2 separate regions of the Homo sapiens genome follow, and region 1 is linked to region 2. The links come from fine-mapping of genetic effects on gene expression. A gene starts in region 2. The other region holds a variant in brackets. All regions are shown on one strand. Distances are between the middles of the regions.

Region 1 (2,919 bases), 34 kb before region 2:
AATGAAATAAAAGAGGATACAAACAAATGGAAGAACATTCCATGCTCATGGGTAGGAAGAATCAATATCGTGAAAATGGCCATACTGCCCAAGGTAATTTATACATTCAATGCCAACCTCATCAAGTTACCAATGACTTTCTTCACAGAATTGGAAAAAACTACTTTAAAGTTCATATGGAACCAAAAAAGAGCCCACATCACCAAGTCAATCTAAGCCAAAAGAACAAAGCTGGAGGCATCATGCTACCTGACTTCAAACTATACTACAAGGCTACAGTAACCAAAATAGCATGGTACCGGTACCAAAACAGAGATATAGACCAACGGAACAGAACAGAGCCCTCAGAAATAATGCCACATATCTACAACCATCTGATCTTTGACAAACCTGACAAAAACAAGAAATGGGGAAAGGATTCCCTATTTAATAAATGGTGCTGGGAAAACTGGCTAGCCATATGTAGAAAGCTGAAACTGGATCCCTTCCTTACACCTTATAGAAAAATTAATTCAAGATGGATTAAAGACTTAAATGTTTGATGTAAAACCATAAAAACCCTAGAAGAAAACCTAGGCAATACCATTCAGGACATAGGCATGGGCAAGGACTTCATGTCTAAAACACCAAAAGCAATGGCAACAAAAGCCAAAATTGACAAATGGGATCTAATTAAACTAAAGAGCTTCTGCACAGCAAAAGAAACTACCATCAGAGTGAACAGGCAACCTACAGAATGGGACAAAATTTTTGCAACCTACTCATCTGACAAAGGGCTAATATCCAGAATCTACAATGAACTCAAGCAAATTTACAAGAAAAAAACAAACAACCCCATCAAAAAGTGGGTGAAAGATATGAACAGACACTTCTCAAAAGAGGACATTTATGCAGCCAAAAAACACATGAAAAAATGCTCATCATCACTGACCATCAGAGAAATGCAAATCAAAACCACAATGAGATACCATCTCACACCAGTTAGAATGGCTATCATTAAAAAGTCAGGAAACAACAGGGGCTGGAGAGGATGTGGAGAAATAGGAAAACTTTTACACTGTTGGTGGGACTGTAAACTAGTTCAACCATTGTGGAAGTCAGTGTGGTGTTTCCTCAGGGATCTAGAACTAGAAATACCATTTGACCCAGCCATCCCATTACTGGGTATATATCCAAAGGATTCTAAAGCATGCTGCTATAAAGACACATGCACGCGTATGTTTATAGTGGCACTATTTACAATAGCAAAGACTTGGAACCAACCTAAATGTCCAACAATAGACTGGATTAAGAAAATGTGGCACATATACACCATGGAATACTATGCAGCCATAAAAAATGATGAGTTCATGTCCTTTGTAGGGACATGGATGAAACTGGAAACCATCATTCTCTGCAAACTATTGCAAGGACAAAAAACCAAACACCGCATGTTCTCGCTCATAGGTGGGAATTGAACAATGAGAACACTTGGACACAGGAAGGGGAACCTCACACTCTGGGGACTGTTGTGGAGTGGGGGAAGGG[G/A]GAGGGATAGTATTAGGAGATATACCTAATGCTAAATGATGAGTTAATGGGTGCAGCACACCAACATGGCACATGTATACATATGTAACAAACCTGCACGTTGTGCACATATACCGTAAAACTTAAAAGTATAATAATAATAAAATTAAAAAAATAAATAATAATAACAATAGGCCAGGTGCAGTGGCCCGTATCTGTAATCCAAGCACTTTAGGAGGCCAAGGTCGCCAAATCACTTGAGCTTAGGAGTTTGAGACCAGCCTGGGCAACATAGCAAGGCCCTGTTTCAATAAAAAGAAGAAAAAAAGAACAAAATAGTAATATTATTATAATAAATGGGCAAAAGCTCTGAATAGACATTTCTCAAAAGAAGACATACAGATGGCAAATAGGTATATGAAAAAGAGCTCAACATTATTATCAGAGAAGTGCACATCAGAACTATTATGAGATATCATCTCATGTCAGTTAAAATGGCTTTTATCCAAAAGACAGGCAATAAGAAATGCTGGTGAGGATATGGAGAAAAGGGAATCTTCATACACTGTTGGTGGGAATGCAAATTATTACAACTATGATGGAGAAGAGTTTGGAAGTTCCTCGAAAAACTAAAAAAAAAAGAGCTATCATATAATCCAGCAGTCCCACTGCTAGGTATACACCCAAAAGAAAAGAAATCAGTATATCAGAGATATCTGCACTCTAATGTTTACTGTAACACTATTCACAATAGCCAAGATTTGGAAACAACCTAAGTGTCCCACAAACAGATGAATGGATAAAGAAAATGTGGTACATGTACTCAATGGAGTACTACTCAGTCTTAAAAAAGGATGAGATCCTATCACTTGCAACAACATGGATGGAACTGGAGTTCATTATGTTAAATGAAATAAGCCAGGCACTGAAAGACAAATTTCACGTTCTCATTTATTTATGGGAGCTAAAATTTAAAATAATTGAAGTCACGGTGATAGACAGTAGGATGGTTACGAGGGGCTGGGAAGGGTAGTGAGTTGCAAGTGGGACAGGCAGGTGCAGTGGGTCTATGGTTAATGGGTACAAAAAAATAGAGTAAGACCTAGTATTTGCTAGCACAACAGGGTGACTATAGTCTAAAATAATTATATATTTTAAAACAACTAAAAGAGTATAATTGGATCATTTGTTACACAAAGGATAAATGCTTGAGGGGATGAATATCCCATTTATCCTGATGTGATTACACATTGCATGCCTGTATCAAAATATTTCATGTAACCCATATATATTCGTGTGTACCCCCCAAAATAATAATTTTAAAATAGAAATTTTGTACCTGGAAGTGAGGTCCTGCCACAACAAGAACCTAAGACATATGGCATTCACTTTGGGACCAAGTAGCAGATGGAT
Region 2 (2,919 bases):
AATAGATAGTTACGGGGAATTGGTCTTGGAACCTCTGCATTCGGCTCTCGAAAATCAGCCCTCCCATTCATCTTTCCTGTATCAAAAACATTACATATTAAGTATTAGAAACTATCACTAGATAGGTCAAAGTAAATCAAGACGTATGATATAGTAAAACTACTAGTCTACACAGCAATCAATCAACAAATATTTATTAAACACTACTATATCTTACGTACTCCACATGTAAATAGCTAGATGAAAAAGTAACAGACCTACTGATTAATTTGGAACTCACTATTCAGGTTAAGTCCCTTAATTGAAAAAGCATATGCGTTTTATAAGTTTATAATTTTTTTTACTATCAAGATATCAATAAAATAACAGACATATTTTTTCCTCCTGGAAGTGGGTTCTTTCACATCCTATGTTTTGGTCGTTTCTCGAATCTATGCCCAATGATTAGGATAATTCCCCAAAATAGAAGAGAAAAAAAATTTCAAGTCATTTCTGAGCTTCCATATTAAAAAATGAAATAATCATCAGAAACATTCAACCTCTCCCACAAAGGAGCACTCCAAAATTATGGAATAACAAAGACGACATATCCTTCTCCCTGTGAGGTAAAACTAACAGCAAATTCTGTATCTCCAAATTTCCTTCCACCCCAAGAATATAAGAAAAAAATGCATAAAATTCCAAGAATATACATTTTTTATTTGGTTCTTTTTTTAAAAACTCATATATTGGGACTCAGACCAACAGATCAAGTAACCGTATTTTACAGAACGTTTACGTGGGATCATGATTATTCTCATTTTAAAAACAATTTGCATGGAAACAGGAAATGGCATACACAATGAGGACAGCAACTGAGCCCTTCCATAATTCATTCAGTCAATAAGCCATGAAGGCCTACTACATGCCAACCCCTTAATTAGAGAAAAGAAATAAAAAAGGTCAGCTGAATTCATGGATGGATGGAGCCTGCTGAATAAACTACCTTTACCCTACAACCGTATGAGAAAAAATGAAACCCTCTTATTTCCCATAACGGCATCCTTCCTAGAAACACCAGGAAGACTGTCAGGGCTGACACGGCGCTTAAGACAATACCATTTTAAGTTCTTTACACAAAACAACGCTGGATTAAAGCCTAAGCGGCCTACAACCGCTGATTACCGCACTCCATCCTCCACCCAGTGTCCGTCTCCCACCTGCCGTTACAGACTGAGCAGCAACCCCACACGCATCCGTGACCACGAACTTCCCCAGCTCACACCCCCAGAAGCACTCCGTCGCCTCCCGCAGTCACCGGCACTCAGGAGGCCGAGACCCGAGCGCGATCTGTCCACCCTCACAGGCAGGAAAATGGCGGAAGGTGCGAAAGTCGTGGATGGCCGCAAAGGTGGTGAGGGGATACGCGGAGGGCAACAACGGGGCTGTTTGCGTCACCTCACCCACCTCCCGACGACAGCAGCAGGCGACTGCAAGGAAAACCAAGCGATCAGGGGCAGAAGGCCCGGAGGGTGGACTCGAGAGGGGGCAGGGAGGGAGAAAAGTGCAAGGTACCGCGGGGAGGGGGAGGGGTAGAACAGCCGCAAGAAGTCATCCAGACAGGGGCTCAAAATGACCGCGACCCGGAGGCACTGTATACTTACGGCAGGAAATGACGTCAGACCTCACTGCGGGTCTGAGAGCCAGCAGCCTAGGAATAGACGCATGCGTATACTCGTCCCTTTGCCCTTTCAGGCAGCTGCGGCCACGAGCCGCACTGCGACTGCGCAGGCGACAGCGGCGGACCAAGAACCCTGCCCCGCCCCTTCCCTGGATGGCGGGGAAGGGGGTTGGGAGTAGGCTTGACTTTGGGCTGTTGTGATGCACCTCTCTGGTCTTCTCGTGGCGGCTGGCGGGAACGTTCCGGAACCCTCTGTTGTCCCTCTTTTGAGAGCGACTTTATAAATTATCTCTTTTATGAGATAATTTCATTCTTTGAGCCTGTAGGCTAAGTAGTAGAAAGTAATTTTTAAGCATGCATACCTGGTTATTTGTCACACCCTCTTGATCCAAGTTTCCAACAAGTTCTACAACCTCTGGCAGGGTACCGTGATCTCTCTGAGGCTACGGTTTTTCTCACCTGAAAAGTGGAATTACATATAGGGTTGTTAGAATTAAAACAACACATCACTGTCTATTAATGAGGGGGCTCACGACTTCTACACATCAGACATGGTGCTGCCACACCCAGCCAATCAGCATTTTACTCATTTTCATACATTCCTTCCTGAAGTATTTATTAGTGCCATGTACTGCAAGTTATTAGTGACTAAACAGTGGGCAAATCCAGTCCTACTATTTGTCAACCCCTCAAAGCCTCTCAGGTTTCTCATCTCTTTCTGAGCCCCTTTGCCACTTTATCATTTAACATTTATTCTCCCGAAGACATACTTAAGGGAGACAGTCACGTGAAACGAATCCAACGCTGTGTTTCCTTCCTTGGAGTCTTTTGATAGCTCCAGTCATGCACCGAATATAAGGCCCATCATGGCCTGGTGGTGCCTGTGCCTTTTGAGCGTCACTTTCTTCTATTTCAGGGTTCACTAACAAGAAACAGCCTGGAGGTCTTTGCCCTCAGTGTTCTCTGTGCACTGTTTCCCCAGTACAACTCTACTCCCTGCTTTGTCAATTCTAACGATATTTCAAAATTCTGCTTTTACATCACCACCTTTGTGATGCCTTCCCTGAAATACACCCCAGAGAAGTAATCACTCTTCCTTCTTAGTCCTTAGCTTGTCCATACTGCTGTCACTGCAATGTACTTTTGCACTGAATAGTGATCTTTTTTACTTACGTCTGTCTCTGTTACAGAGCTCCTTTAGGACAGAGATGTTGGCTTGTAAGTCTTTATAGAACCAAATAAATCCCTGAGATAATCAG

The links. PIP is the estimated chance that this variant, and not a neighbour inherited with it, causes the effect. A credible set is the group of variants that fine-mapping cannot tell apart.
Region 1: its variant is the best candidate, but not a certain one, in a credible set for the expression of OCIAD1 in whole blood (INTERVAL, PIP 0.87).

Annotation. Positions count from the first base shown.
Region 1 is chr4:48,863,334-48,866,252 of GRCh38, reverse strand. No RefSeq gene overlaps it. Among named protein-coding and RNA genes, the nearest start is that of OCIAD1-AS1, 4.6 kb to the right of the region's middle. The variant G/A (reference allele first, on the strand shown) is at 1,528.
Region 2 is chr4:48,829,777-48,832,695 of GRCh38, reverse strand. It overlaps OCIAD1 (OCIA domain containing 1), which reads right to left and starts at 1,608. Exons shown (of 9, transcript NM_017830.4): 1 at 1,447-1,608; 2 at 14-76. The coding sequence starts at 71. RefSeq lists enhancers at 692-1,254, 1,255-1,818, 1,661-2,040.